Linked DNA regions of Homo sapiens. The protein of the gene in region 3 interacts with the protein of the main gene of each other region in a biochemical or structural test. Each region holds a gene or a part of one and is shown on either strand. Other genes may lie near its edges.

Evidence for each region.
Region 1: of the proteins of MAPT (region 3) and GSK3B, one has a biochemical effect on the other in vitro, tested with the Homo sapiens proteins (21 studies listed by BioGRID and IntAct, with this or other methods).
Region 2: of the proteins of MAPT (region 3) and FYN, one has a biochemical effect on the other in vitro, tested with the Homo sapiens proteins (10 studies listed by BioGRID and IntAct, with this or other methods).

What each region holds. Positions count from the first base shown.
Region 1 is NC_000003.12:120,084,427-120,091,455, reverse strand, and holds part of GSK3B (glycogen synthase kinase-3 beta), read left to right. Parts: intron 1-6,807; exon of another isoform or gene 6,808-6,892; intron 6,893-7,029. UniProt on the Homo sapiens protein: Constitutively active protein kinase that acts as a negative regulator in the hormonal control of glucose homeostasis, Wnt signaling and regulation of transcription factors and microtubules, by phosphorylating and inactivating glycogen synthase (GYS1 or GYS2), EIF2B, CTNNB1/beta-catenin, APC, AXIN1, DPYSL2/CRMP2, JUN, NFATC1/NFATC, MAPT/TAU and MACF1.
Region 2 is NC_000006.12:111,870,432-111,878,122, forward strand, and holds the start of FYN (tyrosine-protein kinase Fyn), read right to left. Parts: upstream 3,022-7,691; 5' UTR 2,537-3,021; intron 1-2,536. UniProt on the Homo sapiens protein: Non-receptor tyrosine-protein kinase that plays a role in many biological processes including regulation of cell growth and survival, cell adhesion, integrin-mediated signaling, cytoskeletal remodeling, cell motility, immune response and axon guidance.
Region 3 is NC_000017.11:46,023,525-46,028,834, reverse strand, and holds the end of MAPT (microtubule-associated protein tau), read right to left. Parts: intron 4,880-5,310; coding exon 4,664-4,879; 3' UTR 3,719-4,663; coding exon of another isoform or gene 3,647-3,718; 3' UTR 501-3,646; downstream 1-500. UniProt on the Homo sapiens protein: Promotes microtubule assembly and stability, and might be involved in the establishment and maintenance of neuronal polarity.

The DNA of each region.
Region 1 (7,029 bases), on a different chromosome or scaffold from region 3:
ATACAGATACTAACTAAGGATGGAGTAACTCTTGTAAAATATATAGATGAAAATGTTTAATTCCGATTACCATATAGGTCAATTTAGAATTTTAAAAGTTGGAGTTTAGTGTTAATTATGTGTTTTTGACAGCTTTGACTTTAAAAGCATTTAAAAGAAAGGGGAGTCTTTAAGCATTTGTTAGGATGCTAGCATTCTAAGGAACCCCTGTTGAAAACAGACATAAGAAATTGTAGTCCTTGCTCTCAAAAGCTTATCCTTTAGTTGTAGAGGGAGGCTATGGGGAAAAAAAAATTAAAACAATAGCGTGATGACTGCAAGATTGTAAAATACAAATTGAATCATTTGTTCAGAGTGGCAAAGAGTAAAGGGGTGAGACTGATGGTTGGGAGAGGAAAGACTTCCTGCGGACAAGGTGTATTAGGACTGATGTTAAAGGAGGTGGTAACTTGAACTGGTAGAAAAGCATGAAAGGTCTAGGTGGAAGGAGTGTACCAAGGAACAATGATGGTGAGTTTTGCATGAGAGACAATAATCAAGTTGACAAATCTGAATTAAAGGGGCCTAAATAAGAACATAAGAACAGATGGAATTTGAGAAATAAGAGAAAGTTAGCTGATGGAGGGCAGAGGGGTTCTGTACAAGTTTGATTGAGATTCAGAAGAGATCTGGATTTATTGTTGGTTGCTGAATAAGACGTAAGATGATTTTTGCAGTTGAATTAGTGAATTATAGTAGAGAGATGCTAGAGCCTTTTTAGGGAGCTAGTAGGGTATGTTGTGAATCATGAGGGAATAAAGTAAAATGTGAAAGTGGGGTGAAAGGAACAGGTTTGAGAGACAGTGTGAATGAAGAACTGGCAGAACTTCATACTGGACTGAAGTGGAATATTTGTGAAGGAGTCAAGAGTTAAAAATAAATTCTGATGTTACTGGCCTGGAAGACTTGACTGCTAAGTTATATTGTTAATTGTAATGGGAAAATTGAGAAAGTGCTGAGGTGAGAGGGTAGGTGAGTTCACTTTCTTAAAATTTAATATACAATAAGTTCCCTTGAAATTCAGACAGCAGTTAGTTACTGGCAATGATATTTGACTTCCTAGTCTATTAATTGCACAGTTTCTAATTTTTCTACACCTAAAGATGTTGGATTTATATTCGGGAGCAGTAAACTAAGGGCTTTTATTTAAATGCTTCTCATCAAAGTCCTAATTTTTTTTTTTTTTATATACAGCTTCAAAAGCCTCACACTTGAAACCTGGTTATAATAGTTTCATGATGGCTTATTTCAGATCAATGAAAATACTTTTGGGACTAAACTGTGACTGTAACATTTTAGATATGTAGCCATTAATCTTTGATATATGCTTAAAACTTGTTTTTTATAAATAATGATTATTACTATTATTTTAAATGCAAAATTTATCTAAGAATAAAGTATTGAGAGCCTTCACTTTGTGAAGACTCCAGAAGAAATTAAAAGTTGATTTTATAACAAGTATTTTTTGCCCTTTTTGTTGAGTTTAGGCATTAATCCCAAATTTAAATCAGTATATTTGAAATACTACTTTTTACTTGCTATAGTGAAACCAATGTTTCATTTTTGTTCACTTCCAAGTTTACATGTAATTAAATAAATGTTTATAAAGTTTTTCTTTAGAATCACATGATATTTTACTCCATAGGGAAAGTAAGGGACTGTTTGTGGCACTTTTGGTTAAAATATTAGTAATCCTTTTGGTATATACAATTGGAGAAAATTTAGCTAGTTGTTTAGGTTTAATACTTAAATATAAGATTTAGAAATATGAAAATAAGTCTGTATCACTTAAGTTGTTTCCTCATATAAAACTTTTTTAGATCAAAATTTCTATTAGCAAAGAGAGAATAATAGTAGCTGCATATTATTCTGCAGTATTACGTCGTATGGTGATTAAAGCCAAAGAGTAGGTAGCAACTTAGAGTTTCCGTATTCCCCTGGGAAGTTTAATCTCTTTATGACATCTAAAAATTAGGTTATTAGAGTTTAGTCCATTTCTTGATAATCCTGTGTTAATGTGGAAAAGAGTTCATGTGTGAGACTGAAAACCAGAACTTTATTTTCAGTCATTTCCCAACCCGACTTCCCCAGAGTTGTTAAAACGTTTAAGATATTTAAGAATTGCATGCTTTCTTGTTGCATGCACCTGTAGAATGCTAATTGTGAAGTGACAGTAAGTCACAGGCAAAAGGAAAAACTTCAAGGGAACCCAGTGATTCACAAATCACCTTATGGCTGATTGGGAACTGCATTTAGAAAATGAGGTGACATCTTCTCATTTCACTGGCAAAGTTCAGCTGAAAATCAGTACTTGCACGCTTTACTGTGTAGCCCTTATATTAGAATTGAGTTGCAGGTGTGAGATAATATTTTGGAGAAACAGCAAGGCTGGGAAAGTCAGAGATTTTATTCCAGCAGCAGAGTCTAAAGAGTGGGAGAGCTCTATTTGTGTGTGCACTTTATGCATAGAGAAGGCTGTGAAACATGCATATGTTGACCCTATTGTCACAGTTCCATACTTTTAAATAAGACCCATGAAGTTGAGACAGGGTTGGAGATGACAGACAGGATGTGAGATTGTGGTGCTTCTTGTGATGCTCCACCCTATAATGGAGAATGGAGGGGCAGAACGCTTGTGTGGGTGAGACAAGAGTGTGTGTTGGTACTAACAGGACCAACCGGGTTCCCCGGATATTGTTCTTCTAAGAACATAATCACCATAAGTAAATTAATTTGTTGGAATGTTTATCATTTTCTAGCTGATTTTTTGTGTGTGTGTGTGGGGTGGTGGTGGTGGAAGGGGAGTTTTCCCCGATTTCAAGAATAAAAGCATTTTCATTGTTCAGAAGAAGAGCATTTTCATTAAAGCGGAGGTTGCACTCTTGGCATTTTATCTTGAGTTATACAAATCATCCTTGGTTATACAAATCAAATTGCTTTTGAAATTTGTTGAGTGTAATGTATAAATGTATATTTATATAAAAACCTATGTGAATAGAACAGCAAGGAAAAACTGAGTAGAGTTAAAGAAGTTTGTTTTCCCTGAGATTTTCTGCCTTTAAATTTATATAAAAAAGGAATATTCCATTTTACGTTATTGAGTTTTCTATTTTTTTAAATGAGCTAATACTCAGTACATAATGGACATTTTTAGTAAATTATTCCAATATACTTGTGTCTGTAATGCATTTGATGTGGTATAAGATTTAGAAACACAATTTAGTTCGGCTGGCACGGTGGCTCACGCCTGTAATCCCAGCACTTTGGGAGGCCGAGGCGGGTGGATCACGAGGTCAGGAGATCAAGACCATCCTGGCCAACGTGGGGAAACCCCGTCTCTACTAAAAATACAAAAATTAGCGGGGGCGTGGTGGTGTGCGTCTGTAGTCCCAGCTACTCAGGAGGCTGAGGCAGGAGAATCGTTTGAACCCATGAGGCGGAGATTGCAGTGAGCTGAGATCGTGCCACTGCACTCCAGCCTGGGCGACAGAGAGAGACTCTGTCTCAAAAAAAAAACAAAACAAAAGACAATTTAGTCGATTTGGGTTCTTAGTTTATAATCCCCCTTACCATTTTTGCTTATATTTTGGGAAGAGAGGTCAACTTCCAAACAATGTGCAGGTTCCAATTTTATAAGTGATTAAATCTTATATTTTTTGTATTGAATAGTTTTCTTAGCATGTTTGGTTTGATCACTTGAAGTAATGATGTATTTGTCTTGAAACTAGTTTTGTCAAACCAACTTTTTATTTCCAGAGTACCATGGTTAACAACAGCACAAAGCCAAGTCCTTAACGTGTTCCCTTAATAACATGGTCTAAGGTTAATTTCTTGATTCTTATTTCAAATCAATTCAGTAATAAAAAGTACACTTTTTTTTTTTTTGAGATGGAGTCTCGCACTGTTTCCTGGGCTGGAGTGCCATGGCGTGATCTGGGCTTACTGCAACCTCTGCCACCCAGGTTCAAGCGATTTTCCTGCCTCAGCCTCCCAAGTAGTTGGGATTACAGGTGCCTGCCACCACACCTGGCTAATTTTTTGTATTTTTAGTAGAGACGGAGTTTCACTGTGTTGGCCAGGCTGGTCTCAAAATCCTGACCTTGTGATCTTCCCACCTCGGCCTCCCAAAGTGCTGGGATTACAGGCGTGAACCACCACATGTGGCCGAACTAAATTGTGTTTCTAATTTAGTTTTCCTGAAGAATAACAGCTATGCATCAATGTGGAATTGTGTTATTTGGAATCTCACCTTATTGGAATTGGCTGGTAATTGACAGTAAACCAGAAGTGCTCCTGAGCAGCTAATATCTGCAGACAAATGGAGTGTAAACTTTGCTCATAGGTTAGTTTTCAGGCTTTTATTAACGGTTCCTTGTTATTATTTAACATATAGTTGTAATTCATTGAGTTGTCTGGGTTTTTTTGAAATCACAGATCAGGGGAATGGATAGGTACTGATTAAGCATTATGCTACTGAAAAGAATGGATGATTAGGGGAAACAAGCATATTGGGATTACTTAGTGTATGTAGGGTATGTAGGTTCATATAGTTCCAGGGTAAATCATTCTGATAATTGTTGAAAATGTTCACCCAGAGAAATTTTTTTTTTTTTTTGGAGACAGGGTCTCGCTGTGTTGCCTATGCCTAGCCTGGAGTGCAGTGGCACAGTCTTGGCTCACTGCAGCCTCTGCCTCCTGGGCTCGGGTGATCTTTTAACCTCAACCTCTGGAGTAACTGGGACTATAGGCATGCGCCAACATGCCTGGCTAGTTTTTGTAGTTTTTATAGAGAGGGGGTTTCGCCATCTTGCCCAGGCTGGTCTTGAACTCCTGGAATCAAGCAATCCTGCCTCAGCCTCCCACAGTGCTGGGATTACAGTCATGAGCCACTGCACCCATCTGAGAATATTAATTCTCTTTTAAAGAGGCAGGAGGCAGAAAAATCTCTTGTGGAAACCTGGGCTTCTGCATAAACTACATAAAATATCTGTAATTTGTTGATCACTGAAGTGATGAAGAGAACTGGGTCACCTCTGTCTGATTCACCATCTTCTAGTTGGATTTCAGCAGTATGGATAAAGGTACTAAAGTCTTTAGTGTGCTAGCCCAGGGTATTGTTTCCAACTCTTTCTTCCATTGTCCATCTACATTTATTAACTCAGCAGCAGAGTTTTATCTGATTTAAGATTTGTTGTCTTACTATTTCTGTTTTTTTTTTTTTCCTCCTTAGTATATATGGAATTGCTGCTTGGATTTTGGCTGGCTTGTACCTTTTGTTTGTGGACTGCTTAGAAGGCACTGCATGGAGTCATTTAAGCTTTCTTATGAATTATGAATAGCTATGTAGAGAGGAACTTTTCTAGATACATTTATGGCCTATGAGAATTGAAAAGCTGGGTATCTTAATTGTTAGGCTGAAGAAAAAGGGTGATAGTGGCAAAGTAGTTTTTCTTTTGGAGGTCTGAGAAATTCTTAGGGGCTTAATTGGCTAATATAACTAGAAAGGTTGGGTGATTTAGGTTTTTTTCCAAGGAAAGGTATCTTATTTAAATGCAACACTGTCTGCTTCCTGTTATTTTATAAAATTAGTTAATACTTTTTTTTTTTTCTCAAGACGGAATGTCACTGTGTCGCCCAGGCTGGGGTGCAGTGGCACAATCTTGGCTCACTGCAACCGCCACCTCGAGGCCTGGTTCAAGGAATTCCCCTGCCTCAGCCTCCTGAGTAGCTGGGATTACAGGCATATGCCACCATTCCCCGCTAATTTTTTTGTATTTGTAGTAGAGATGGGGTTTCACCATGTTGGCCAGACTAGTCCTGAACTCCTGACCTCAGGCAATCTGCTGGCCTCAGCCTCGCAAAGTACAGCAAAATCAGTTAATATTTTTAATTGATTAACACTTTCTTCATGACCTGTGTTGAAGTTATTGAGTTGAGTCAATTGAATTTCTAATGCTAGATTTTGAGTATGTGGTGTGAGCACCTGAAGAGTTGGAGGTACTGGAATTATGTCTGACATCAGACTGATAGTATTTGCAGGGACATTTGCCCTAGTGGAATTCAGGGTTTTCACATTCTATACATTACTTAAATTATGAAGGAAAGGGGGAAGCTTTGAGTTGGTAGACTTTTAATAATAAGATATAATTACATGTATATAGAAGAGCAACGTACTGTATATCATATTCTCATAATATATGGTAATAACGGCAGTAATTATTGAGTGCGGTGTGCCAGATAATTGCATGTTTTATTTACCTATTTTGCTTTAAATTTTAAAAAATGTAATTTACTCACATGGTTCAAAATTTTAAAGATATTCAGTGAAGTCTTCTCTCCTGCTCTGCAACAACCAGTTCTCTTTCCTGGAGACCACTGGCATTACAATTTCTTATGTGTCCTTTCATAGGTATTCTGAATCTTTACGGATTAATGATTTCTATAGTAGACTTGCATTTTGTGTATACATACATAAATTAACAATAGCTTTAGCAGAAGTGTTAGAATTAAAACAAATTTAAATCAGTAACTCTAGAAAATTGCTATTTTTTAACCTATTAAATTAGTAAATACTTATTTCTCTAAATATAAGTTAGTTGGAGAATAAGTGCAAAGATGACAGAGCTCCTCTCGTGGCAATTAGAGGTAAAATGTTAATAGTCTTAACCAATGAACAATTAATAGCACATTTAAAATAGATGTTTATTTCATAATAAAAAGACAGGATAATTTTTTAACTTTCTATTTTTCTAACATCTTAGATGAGAAAACCTGTTCTCTTGAGAGATCAGAGGCGCAGAGTGCGTCAGTGTCAATGAAGCCTGTGCCTTTTACTTCTTTAAGAGCGTACGGTTTCATTCTGCTCCTAAATCAAGCACCCCTTAGTTGTTGAATAAAAATTACTTTTATAAAGGAATATATGATTTAAAGAAATCAAATAGTGCAGAAGGGCTTATGATGGAAAGTAATCTTCTGTCCTCCAGTCCTACT
Region 2 (7,691 bases), on a different chromosome or scaffold from region 3:
CAGGCCTATTTGTTACACCTGCTAACATTAGCCTAATTGATACAGGTGTTGAGCACATACCAAAGACCTAACTCACATTTGTTTAATGTTAAATGAAACAGAATACCCGCTAAGATAAAACTTGGTAGGAAACAAGATAAGTAAGATAAGGTTCCTTTTATCAATGTGCTGACCAATTAATGGTGGAAATAGACTCATGCGAAACATAATGCCTGCTGCCAAAGTTTGAAACCAAAACATGATGATTTGTTTGGAAAGGAGAAGATGGAAACGGCTTCACAGAGGAGATGACATTTGAGCTGGGCCCCAAAGGTTAAAAAGGACTTCGAGCAAGTCAGATGGGGTTGGAGATTCCAGACCCAGGAGAAAGCAGAGTGTGCATTTGCTCACATTCAACCTTATCATTAAGTCTCTTAAACTTGGTCAACAGAGTGTGAGTTTATGTGCTCTGGCTTTCCTTCCTGGGTCTGGCATCAAACAAACGACCCTTTGTTTTTACAGTACACTCATTAACCCTATTGCTTTTTTTATCGTAAAAAGTTCCACGATGAATGTTCTTAAAAAGTGTGTAAGTAAATATTTAATGAATCATAACTCTTTTCTAATAAAATTACTGAAGACTAAACCTACAGTTCTGTTACTTATAAAAATAGTCGAGGAGCCATACTTTTAGGAAAGAACAGGTTCAACTTAAGTTTTGACAATATCGATTAAGCATGTAATAGTCACTGGCTTACAAAACGGAACATTAAGCCCCCAGATTTACATTAACATTTCTTCCTTAAAGGGAACATCAAATGGTTTAGACTTCAGTCAAGATTCTCTACAGCCCCAGTTCATAGCCAAGTGGCCTCAAAGCCTCAGATAGTTAAACCACTTCCTCCAAAAGTCTGTGAGTCCCTTCATCTGAATACAGGGTACCCATGGAGCAGGGACTGGGGAAGAAGACAGTACATAGGGTGGAAAGTATTGCAGTTGCTTGGGTGGTGAGAAAGGAAGTAGGCGTCCCAAGACTACCTTGAAGCAGGCAAGAGGCAGTCTGCAGTGGTCTTCCAAATGCTAACTCTAGACCGTTTTATCCACGTCCCCAGGTATTTACTTCAATAAAAGGGTAAAACAACATCACTGGGCAGACAGGATTTCATTTCAAAAGACTTCAGTACAGTGCCCTCTTAGACTTGAGAGAAGAAGCCATTCAGGCTGCCTCCCTCTTATCAAATAACAATTTAATTCTGATTCAGAAACAAAATTCTTGTGACCCCCACACCAATCTACTCTACCCCAGCTCTTAGTACTTGTTCCCAAAAGGACAGGGGAAAGAACGAGGGGATGGGGAGGCTACCTTAAAAGTAAAGCAACTCTTAAGACTGCTGGGATAACTGTTCCCTTAAATCTAAGAAACACTGCAGCTGCCAGTCAACACTACCGGTCTCTGAACACAGCAAAATGCCGACACCTGCCACCCGGCATCCGGGGGTTCTTTTATTTTTTGGTAAATGTGGCAGGAAAGACTCAGAGAGATCAACTGCTTCATGGGAAAGAAAGGGAAGCCCCAGGGAAGAGAGACAAGAAGCATCGTGCCTATCCTAGGGTACTTTGTGTGTCTCCTCTCTATGCACTGAAAGGGCTCTTTGTGTCACACTCACACTCACACACCCGGCGAGTCTGTGTGATTTATTGGGGGAAGGAGGGGCAAGAAGGGTGATTTTATTATCCCTCTTCCCAGTGAGTCCCAGCACATCTCTGCTGGGCCCAAGCTCGGTGGCCTCCTTCTGGCCCAGTCCCCTCCGCCTGTGGCCGCAGAGATAACAGAGGGGAGGAGCCCAAACAAAAACAGCCATGGATCTAGGGAAGTAGAGAGGAAATCCAGCGAGGGAGCCGGAAAGGAAGGAGAAAAGAGCTGGAGGGAGCAGAGGGGTGGGGGACAGAGGAAGAGGAGGGAAGGCTCCAGCACAGGGGAAAGGGGAAGGGTGGGTGGGTGGTGGCACAGGAAGAGTGAAGGGGAGGATGGGGGAAGTGCAAGGGAGGTGCCAGAAATAGGCAGGAGGATGGGTTGGAGAAGGCGACCGCCGCCGAGGGAGGAGGCCGAGAGGTGGAGGAGTGGGGCAGGGGTTGGGTGGGGAGGGAAGCAGCACGGGGCATCAATTATTAAGTGATTACATCATCCCTGACATTAAAACAACACACACAGCCCCAGTCCCCGCGGGGGGCCCCAAAAGGAGGGCGGGGGCGGAGTCTGGGCCAGCCTCGCCCCCAAGCCAATTCCCATTTTCACCCGGCGCCCGCTTGCGGGCGAGGAAATGGGGTCCCCATCCCCGCGCTGCCTCGGGGCCGCACCCCGCAGGGGTGTCCTCCGGTGCAACCGCGGGAAGACCCCAAGCACCGACTCCCCGGCAGCCCCGCGGAGCGCCCTGGCGGCCAAGGGACCGCAGCACCGGGCCCTGCGGCGGGGGCGGCGTGCGCGGGGGCGCCGGCGGCCGGGCTTCTCCGCAGCATCCCCGAGGCCTCCCGCGACGCATCCCCGCCGCCTGCTTACCTGCGCGGCGCTGAGGCTCCGGAGCCCACTCACATGGTCCTCTCCCCGCCCTCCTCCGGCGCGGCCGAGGCGGCTCCGGGGGGTCCCCGGCGGGCCCGGGAGCCGGTGGGCCTTCCGAGAGCACCGAGGGGGCGGCGCCGGGGTGTCCCCGGCCCGGCGGCCGAATCCCTCCCTGGCGCGGGCGGCGGCCGCCGGGCGGTGCGGCGCGGGCGGCGGCTTTGTGTGCGCCCGGGCGGTCCTCGGTGCGCTGGGAGAAGCGCGGCGCGCCCGGGCGGGAGAGGACGCGCCGCTCGCACAACAACCTCGCCTCTACTCTCGCCGCCGGGCGGCGGGCGGGTCTCGAAGGCCTTCGGCTCGCGGCGACCCCTCCTCCTCGCCCGCGGCAGCCCCCTCCTCGCCGGCTCCGCTCCTGACAGATGGCGCAACTGCAACGACGCGCCGCCGCCACCAGCGCGGCTGCTCGCTGCTACTCTTGCTGATGCTCTGCCCCTCCAGCTCCGGAGGGGAGCGAGGAGGGGGCGGGGCGCGCCTCGAGAGTGACAGGCCCGGCTGCCCTATCAAAGAGCCCCTTGGGAGCTGCGAGCCGCAACCATTGGCGCCTGGGGCGTGGGCGGGACGGCAGTAGGTGGGGCCGCCGAGTGGGTTGAGCGTTACTGTGGCAGCGGGCATCCCAGGGTGCGTGCGGTGCAGGGTGTGCAAGAAAATGCGAGGTTGGAGGAGGAGGTCTGTGTGTTTTTAAGGATTGTGTGGAGTTGTGAGGTGGCGGAGTAGGGCGGGAGAAAGAGCGGAGAGTGTGAACTGCAGTTTCCGCTTTGCGGAAGGTTGCAGCTGCTGCTGCAGATTGGCACCTGCCATTCCCCCAAAACCATGGGAAACTGCCTCGAGACAGGGCTATCTTGCCTTTCTGGTGTCTTTTCATTTGAGGGTGAGAGGATGAAATGGAAAATTGGGCGGTGATAGCAGCGTTTTCTTTGATCAAACTGAAAAGAGTACGGAGCAAAGTAGAATCCTGTCCTGAAACGTGGAAACGCACAACAAATAACAATGAGGAGGAGAAGGAGATTAGGATCATTTTATCAGTCCCCTATTTCTGCGGACACTCATTTATATTTTTTTTCTAGCAAAAGTCTGGAGGAAGTATTACTGAAATAGGGGGAGGGGCCAAGCGGCGACTAAGGAACCTGAAATGACAGAGATTTGTTCGTACATTCCCCGCCCCACCCCCAAAAAACCTCGTTTAATTGTAGTCATTGGTTGTCTTTGGTTTCTCATAACATTCAAACTTCTCATGTTTTTTTCCCCTTCACTGAATCTGAGCTTTTGCTCATATTTCCCTTGATGAAATAATTGCCGGTTTAGTATACAGTTGGGAGTGCATCGGTCTTTATTTCCTATCCAGCTTTTCTATGGCAGGATGTAACTTCATAAAAAGAAACACTTTGGCTTCCTGATTTTCTTTATAGGTAATTCCTGTTTACTGAAAGTTCTGCTTTAAGGCATACTCAGAATCGCTCTCCTTAATGATTTTGGCAAGAACCCTACCTTCCCCCTCAGCAAATCTAATGTTCTAAGAAATTATAAGTGAATCAGCTTCTGCTTCTGTGCTCAAAATCTATAATATTGCCTTTCCGGCCCACTACTTGTTTTTACTGTAGTTTAAAAAAATCTGTCCCTTTTGCTGACTTTTTTCTTTTTGTACACACTACTTTTTAAGAAAAGTTGCTAACATTTATTAAATGATCTGCATCCTATGGAGGAGGAAACTGAGGAAAAGAAAAGTTAAGTAACTAACTCAAGGTGACAGTATACAGAGGTTACTGGATTTTTTTCCTTTTCCTTAAACAAAATGACAAATTAAACCATGTTTAAATTGTGTCTGGAAATTCCATAATCCCAAGAAATGGAACCATAGCTAGGACTAGGATATTTCCATACAAGAGAAAGCCAGCTTCATTTAGCCAAGAATTGCTTATCTCAAGAGCAGAGGCTCTTCGTCCTCAGGGCTAGTCCGCAATGGCTGCTCTGGGTTTATTTGGATTGGGATGCAGAGGCAGTTGGGTAGAGCAATGGTTCTCAAACTTTGACATGTATCAGAAATAACTGAAGGGGCTTGCTTAAACATGAATTGCTGTGTTTAACCACCTGAGGTTCTGATTTAGGGGGTTTGGGATGGTGCCCAAGAATTTGCACATTTAGCAAGTTCCCAGGTGATGTTGATACAGCCAATCTGGAGACAGCACCTTGAGGACCATAGTTCTAGAATTGGGCTGTCCGAGGAGGTAGCCACTAGCCACATGACTGTTAAGTACTTGAAATGTACTTCAGTATTGGAAATTTGGCTACTGCAAATTAGGATGTGCTGTAAATGTAAAAGATGTATTAGATATTTCAGATCAAGCATGAAAAATGGAATGTAAAGTATCCCATTTTAATATTGATTACATGTTAAAATGATAGTCTAAATGTACTGTGCTAAATAAAACATTATTAGAGTTAATTAAATTGTTTCTTTTATTTTTTAAATGCGTCTACTAGAAAATTTTAAATAACCTATGTGGCTCAAGTTATATCTCTATCGGGCAGCACTGGTCTGGAGTTGTTTCTGATTCCAGCTCCACAGTTCACTGTTGGGAGCGCTTTGATGAAGCAAGTCGCTTATCCTTTTTGAACCTTAGTGTCCTCATACGTAAAATGGGAAAAATAGTAAAACTGTTCTCAAACTATTCCGGACAGACTAAGTGTCATATGCTCTCAAGAAAAAAACACTCTTAGGCTATATATCTCCTTGAAATCTCATGTTTAGTTCAATCTATCTTACGCTAAATCTGGAAATCTGGAGTAGGTGGGATAAGTCCTCTCTCTCTCTCTCTCTCTCTCTCTCCCTCTCTCCTCCTCTCTCTCTGTTTCTTCACGAGAAGTCACTTCTTAGTGTCTGCAACTGTAATAGCTTCTTGATCTAATTAGTGGACAAAGAGACAATGTGATTAAAATGACAGATTAACCTGCTCCCATCAAGACTTCATCCTGTTTTTTGTAATTCTTTGCTTACCTACTTTTTTATCTGTTGCCCGTCTTAAATGTAGCTTTAAATGGATTTGGACTCCTCAGGAGGATTTGCTAATGGTCTGAACAAGTGAATAGAGCACTGCAAAAGATTTGTATACTATTCCCGTTTTGATCTTTTCTGCCAATCTCTACCAAGAACTTGATTAAAGATCTGAGACGCTGTCCCTGGCCTACCCAAGGTAAGTAATATTGTCTTCCACAACCACCAGTTTTGTTTTCTTATGAGTAGCTTCTATTATACAAATTAGAATGTAGTCATTGTTCTAGAACTTCTCTTTGATTTTATTGATATTGTTTATATATTTTGTATTTTTCTACTTGTTTTACCTTAAAGTTTCCTCTTTCTATTCTGGCTTTCTTGAACTTGTCTCATCTGAATCTTATATCTTGCTTTTAAAGTAACTTTTTTTTCTTATTTTTATTAGCTAAAACATTTTCTTGTCTTATTATTTTATTTTAGTTTTAATCTTCTCTTAAATGTCAACTCAACAACAACACATATGGCAAGGGTAAAAACCCTCAATGTAGAGTTTTTACAAATCAACAAGAAAATAAAGATGAACGTTCGAACTGAAAAATATGTGCAACAGAAACAAAACCCAAAATGGCCAGTAAATGTGATAGGAGGTTCAACAGGAAAATGGATATCCATACCCTACTAGTGGAATTTTTAATTGGTACAACATTGCTGGAAGGCAGTTTAATAGCATTTGTGAAAAGCCTTTTAAAAAAATGTATACATTTGACTTAGCAATTTTACTTCTGGGAAAGAATGGAACAAATTTGCAAATACACAAACACAAGCGCACATATCATGGGAATAATTGGAACATTGTTTATAATAGTGAAACACTGAGAAAAGTTCATTGATAAGGGATTTGGTGTGTAAATTATGTTATATCTATAATAGAATACTATATAGCCATAAAATTATAACATTGCCATTTATTTATTTATTTGTGTGGAAAGATGTTCACAACAAATTAAAATTAAGAAGAGCTAATAAATTAGTATTGTGTTTGTATGTGTACATATGTATGTTTATATATATGTATTAATACACATATATTTCCATTATTTTTAAACTTATTTATATGTGTAAATTTTCATAGAAAGCAATACATACACAAAAATTTTAATGATCATTTCCTCCAAGTAATCATATTTTAGGTCATTGTTATTTTATTTTTTATCTTTTTCTTAATTTCCTCAACTTTTTACATTGGGCATTTATTATGTTATTAGAAAAAACAATAAAAACTTATTTTAAACTTGTACCTTTTTTTGCTACTTTAATTCTCGTTTTTCTTCCTCTGCCTCCTGTCTGCTGTTTTTCCTCCCTTTTGAAGGCATATTGCCCCAGGGTAGTGTTCAGGAATCAAGACCAGGACCAGAGGGAGGCCTTCTGCTTCCATCCACCCACAGACACCCTTCTTGTTTCTGGTGGGTCTTCTGGGACTTGCAGGAATGATTCTTATAAAACTTCACTTTGAGGCTAGGCATGATAGCTCGTGCCTGTAATCCCCGTGCTTTGGGAGGCTGAGGCCAGAGGACTGCTTGAGCCCAGGAGTTTGAGACCAACCTGGACAGCACAGCAAGACCCCATCTCTACAAAAAAAATAAATGCCAGGTGTGGTGGTGTACACCTGCCGTCTCATCTACTTGGGAGGCTGAGATGGGAAGATTGCTTGAGCCTGGGAGGTCAAAGCTGCAGTGAGCTCTAATTGCACTGCTGTAACAGAGTGAGACCCTGTCTCAAAACAAAACAAAATGAAAAAAACAAGCAAAAAAACCCCTTCACTCTTAGAGTGGGACACCACTGCTAAAGTGGCCCCAGGGCTAACCTGTCTGTACTTGGCATACCTGGTTCACTGTTTACCTCTTTCTTCTGATGCCTCATATCAAGTCCATACATAAAGAGTTACATATTTTTATATACACAATCTTTAGAACACAGCCAATGGATTTAGGGCATTTTGGGTCCACAGCTTGCCATGAGCCAGCAGGAGATGGTCCTGGAAAAATCTCATGTGGGAAGGACATTCCATACAACACCCCAGCCTGAACTCAGAAAGGAGCGTAGGTGATG
Region 3 (5,310 bases):
CTTGGTTTAGCAGAAATACTCCTCAATCTATAATAAGGTACCAAAGGAAAGAAGGCAGCTCTGCAAACCTAGCAGGAATCTAAGCCATTCATTAAGCTGATTGGCTTGGTGTTCTGCTCCAGCCCCAGGCCTCTGGACTAAATTTCCAGGGATGAAAGATCCCATATCCTCATCCCCAACCTTCTCAGGTTTGCATACACTGGTGCCGGTCTTGCAAACTGAGTGCTGCATCGTGAGGTCAGCCACAAGGCTTTGTATTGCCCTTTGAATGGGACTAGGATGGTTTGCCAGCATCACAAAGAAGCAACTGCAAATGAGCAAGTCTGAGAACTCTCACCTTCAGGGCCCCAGAGAGAGCTGTTAATCCTGATGTCCAGCTTTTATTAATACTATCATTTCCTGTTCTGAGCTAAATTATCTAAGGGTGCGTGGGAAAGAACTTAAAAAATAGACATTCTATATGACTTTCTTGTCCTTGGAATCCATGAATGGAGACCTTATTTAATCAGAGTAATAACTTTATTTCCAAATTCACTTTTACAGCAACAGTCAGTGTAAATCATTTGTTAAAACACACAATACACTATATAGACATTCACAGACAGAAAGCTAAGCTAAGATGATTTCATGTCCCTCCCCCCACCCTCAGAATTACCGAAGAAATCATGGGACTTGCAAGTGCCAGAAATAGTCCTGCTCAACATGGCAAACTCATGGGGCTAAGTCTATTAGGAGGTGAGGCTCTAGGCCAGTGCCCAGGGTAACCCTTTTCAAAGCTGAAGAGAAATCAGAAGTTTTATGAAGCTGCAGGTCTGTAGATGGGACACGCAGGTGATCACCTCTGCCCTCGCCCCGACCTCGTGGCTTTACTTGGAGAACAAAGATGAGGAGGGTGAAGCGAGTGATCTCAGCTCCAAAAGCACAGGCTGTGTGTCTGGAGCCAGTGTGAGAGGTGGCACAGAGGTGCCAACGGCTTAGAGGGAAGGATGCCAAGGTCTTAGGGAGGCATGATTGTGGGCTTAGGACCCCTGAAAGAGGGCAGCAGGCCAAAGCAACCAGATGTCCATATTCCTACGCCTGCACCTGGCTGGGGAGGGAATGAACTAGCCAGCTGCCTGGGAAAGCCTGTCAGTGGAAAAGAGAAACCCCAAGGGCCTCTAACTCCGTGGCTGCTCCCTCCCTCTAGCAAATGTGGTTGAAATCATGAAAAGGGTTACGAGGCAGTTTAAGTGCTGCACCCCAAGATCTCCCTTTGCCCATGTTAACTATCTTACACATTCCTCCCCCCTCCCCCCATAGCACAACAAGCAATAGCAAACAGGATACAGTCTCACCACTGAAGTCAATTTAAATGGAACTATTGATAAAGTGAGTCAGCAGCTTGAAGGAGCCGGCATACAGTATATCCTATCTAGCCCACCCAAGGACACTGGCTCTGCAGGTGGGAGAAGTGAGGGGAGGGGAGGAGTGCCCAGCCCTGGGGGGATTGTCCTCATTTAAGATCACAAGCCAGCGTGCCTTTTCAATTTATCTGCCAGCACTGATCACCCTAAACCATGATCTTAGGCTGGCCCCAAGAGCCTGCCCCACAAGGGGGAGATCCCAGAGCCTTCCGTATAAGAAGGCCCATGGTGCTGAAGAGCAGGGCACAAGAACTTCAGGAAGAGGAACCGAGGTGCGTGAAGAAATGCAGCCGAAACTGTTGGCAGTAATGAGGGGGGCATATCTCTAACCACCACCAAATCTACCCCACATTTCCTTCTCCTTCTCAGATCCCTTCAACTTAGGAGAATTGCTGGGACTCAGCGAACGGCAGGGAGGCTCTTGGTGGAGAGTTCTGGGCCCAGAGACTTCCTTTCAGGTAAAGCTCTAGCTGCACACGAAGCTGCCAGCCCCAGGGGAGGCCCTGGATTTCTACTGCCAAGTCCCTCAGGGTTGCCTTTAACTGTACCCAAACCAGAAGTGGCAGAATTGGGCCTGAGGCTGCTGAGTTTCTTTAGGCAGCAATGTTTTGCAAAGGCGGCTTCCCTTTTCTCATGGCAGCAGATGGAGTTTGTGCAAGGTCAGCGGGCTGAGGTGCTCTGGTCAAGGCTTTGGGAACAGTGTCTCCTGACTTGTCAAGTCATCCTTCCTCAGGCAGGCAGCTTGGGCCTCTAGAGCAGATCCAGGACAGGCAATTCATCCCAATCCCTGCTGTGGTCGCAGGGCCCTTGGTGGGAGGCTGCGCTGCCCCTCCAGAGGGCGAGCTTGGAGAGGAACCCAGTCTGAGGGGTGGCTGAGGCTCACGGAGCTTCTGGGAGCTGCAGATCCCCCCAGCTGGCAGTGGCTTCCTTTTTCTTGTGATGCAGGAGTTGTAAGCCTCCTTTGGGACTGCCATGAGACTTCGGGCTATGACCAGAGAGAACCATCCTCGCGCCGCAAGCCAGACCAGCCACAAGACCTAGTCTGTGCCCTGACACAGGGAGCCCCAAGGGGAAGTAGGGAAGGGGACATCATCGCTTCAGTCCTAATCCTGTGCTTCAGGCCTTCGTCACAGCTGAACGGCCTCCTTAGCTGCTAGAAGCTGGTCTCTGTTGGGTCCCAGGTGCTGAGGAAAGCCTTTCAAAACTTGGGAGGCCCCAGCAGGGTGGCACCACACAGGCCACACGAGTCCCAGTGTGGGGGTGAGAGACACCTCGTGAGGGTGGGTTAGAAACCTCTTTACAAGCATTTCAAGATACATGCGTCCTTTTTTTTTTTTTTTTTTCTTTTCACTATCATAGTCACTCTGGTGAATCCAAGCATAAACAGACAAATCCAACTACAACTCAACAGGGTGCAGATGGGGAGGGCAGGGCAACATCTATGTATATGTTCAGCTGCTCCAGCAGAACAGACAGCATGGCTTCCAGCTGGGACTGGGGGAAAAGAACCATTTCCAAGGGGGTGTGTTCCCCTTTGTCGGGTGTGGAGGGCTGATACTATGCATGTGGAGCTGAGCAGCGGGCTGGGCTGTCTGGGAGGTTGGCAGCTACAAGCTAGGGTGCAAGTGGGGGACAGCGGGACTGTGGGCCTGCCCTGGGTGCCTTGCCCTTCCATCCTGGTGCCACCACTGACAACCAAGACACCCAGCCTGCTGCTGTGGGCTCAGCACAGGAAGGGGCCAGGCCTTCTCAGGGGAAAGGGCTCTCTCCATGTCAACAAGGCAGAAACACCTAGGGTCACAGCTGAGCAGTGCCCTGGCTCACATCTGTGACGGGAGGAGGAGACAGGGAACCGAATCAGATCATGAGATTCGTGGTGAGGGTCCCAGTTGGATGAGTGGAACTGAGAGTGAGAGGCTGGGGTCCCACTCTTGTGCCTGGACTTTGCCTTCCCTTAATTTCACCCTCAGTATGGAGTAGGTACCTCCTGCAACCAACCAGGGTCATTACTGAGAAGGGGTGGTGAGGCTGGGAATTCGGGACATTGTGACGTGTGATGAGGGGTATAGGCAGTGATTGGGCTCTCACGGCAGACAACAGCACAGCGGCGCAGACGGGGTGACTGCAGTGGCCGTGGGAAGGACAGGGGGCTCGGGACCTGCCTCCCAGACCCCCACACACTCCAGAGATGCCAGTGGCCCAGGCTTGGAAACGGGTGGACGTCTCCCAAGAGGCACAAGTCCTTACAAAGAGAACTGGTTAGCCCTAAAGTCCCAGGTCTGCAAAGTGGCCAAAATCATGGCAGCAGTTCCAACCTTCAGAACTCAATAAAACAGGGTTTCTGTGGAGCAGAGGGAAGCCCCTCAACTCAGGCCCCCTACCCTGCAGGGAGGGAGGAAGAGGCCAGCGCTCTCAAGACATCAAGGTCAGTCTTTTCTAAGGAGGTCATCCACGAAGTGCCACCCTCCTGCCAGCTTGCCTTCTCTTTTTACCCGCTGTCCCTTCTCCCACAGGCTGCCCTGCAGAGGGTGGCACACTGACCCACAGCAGGCCCCCACCCCCGGCCACCAAGGACAGGCGGCCGCTCAGACGCTGCAGGTGGCATAGGCCTTGGCTCTCCCAGCGGCAAGGAGGGGGATGTCTACTCTCCAGCACGTGGCTTCCTCTCCCACTCCCACTTCTTGTGCTTCCTCTCCCCTCTGCCCAGCCCCTGCCTCGGCCTCCCCCGTGGCCTCCCGCCCCACCCCAACCCCCGTCACACTCACACAAGGTTGACATCGTCTGCCTGTGGCTCCACGAACACACCAAGTTTCAAATCCTTTGTTGCTGCCACTGCCTCTGTGACACCCCCACAACAGGGCCAGAGGTGGTTGGCACCCCCAGTCCCTTGAAATCCCCCAGAAGCAGCTTTCAGAGCCTCTCCTTCTCCCTCTTCTACATGGAGGGGGAAGAAAAAAGAATCAAAAGGAATTGCCTGAGGAAATGTTGGATGTGGCCATGTTTTTGAATGTTTTTTTTTAAATATTTTATTACTAGCCCACCCATCAATTTGGAAAGATGAAATTTGCTCTTACTCCCATCACTGATTTTGAAGTCCCGAGCCAAAGCCGAGTGACAAAAGCAGGTTAAGTGATTAACCAATTAACCGAACTGCGAGGAGCAGCTGGGGGCAGAGGGCGGGGGCCGGGTCATTATTCTTTTTTTTTCCACACTCTCTCATTCTCTCCTCTCCACAATTATTGACCGCCCCAGGGGCCTGATCACAAACCCTGCTTGGCCAGGGAGGCAGACACCTCGTCAGCTAGCGTGGCGAGCTGGGGCGAGTCTACCATGTCGATGCTGCCGGTGGAGGAGACATTGCTGAGATGCCGTGGAGACGTGTCCCCAGACACCACTGGCGACTTGTACACGATCTCCGCCCCGTGGTCTGTCTTGGCTTTGGCGTTCTCGCGGAAGGTCAGCTTGTGGGTTTCAATCTGCAAGAAGAGGAAGGGAGGGAGGGTGAGATGAAGTGCCAGAGAAAGACCAGCCCTGCCAACTGCCCTGCCAGGCCTGGCCCAGAGTGCCAGGGACTGTTTTTTGTTTGTTTTTGAGACAGGGTCTTGCTCTATCGCCCAGGCTAGAGTGCGGTGGCACAATCTCACCTCACTGCAGCCTTGACCTCCCAGGCTCAGGTGATTCTCCCACCTCAGCCTCCCGAGTAGCTGGGATTACAGGTGCATGCCACCACACCTGGCTAATTTTTTGTATTTTTAATAGAAACGGGGTTTTGCTATGTTGCCCAGGCTGGTCTTGAACTCCTGGACGCAAGCAATCTGCCCGCCTCAGCCTCTCAGAGTGCTGCCATTACAGGCGTGAGCCACTGCGCCTGGCCAGGAGCTGTTGTTTTTATTGTCTTCCAATTGGT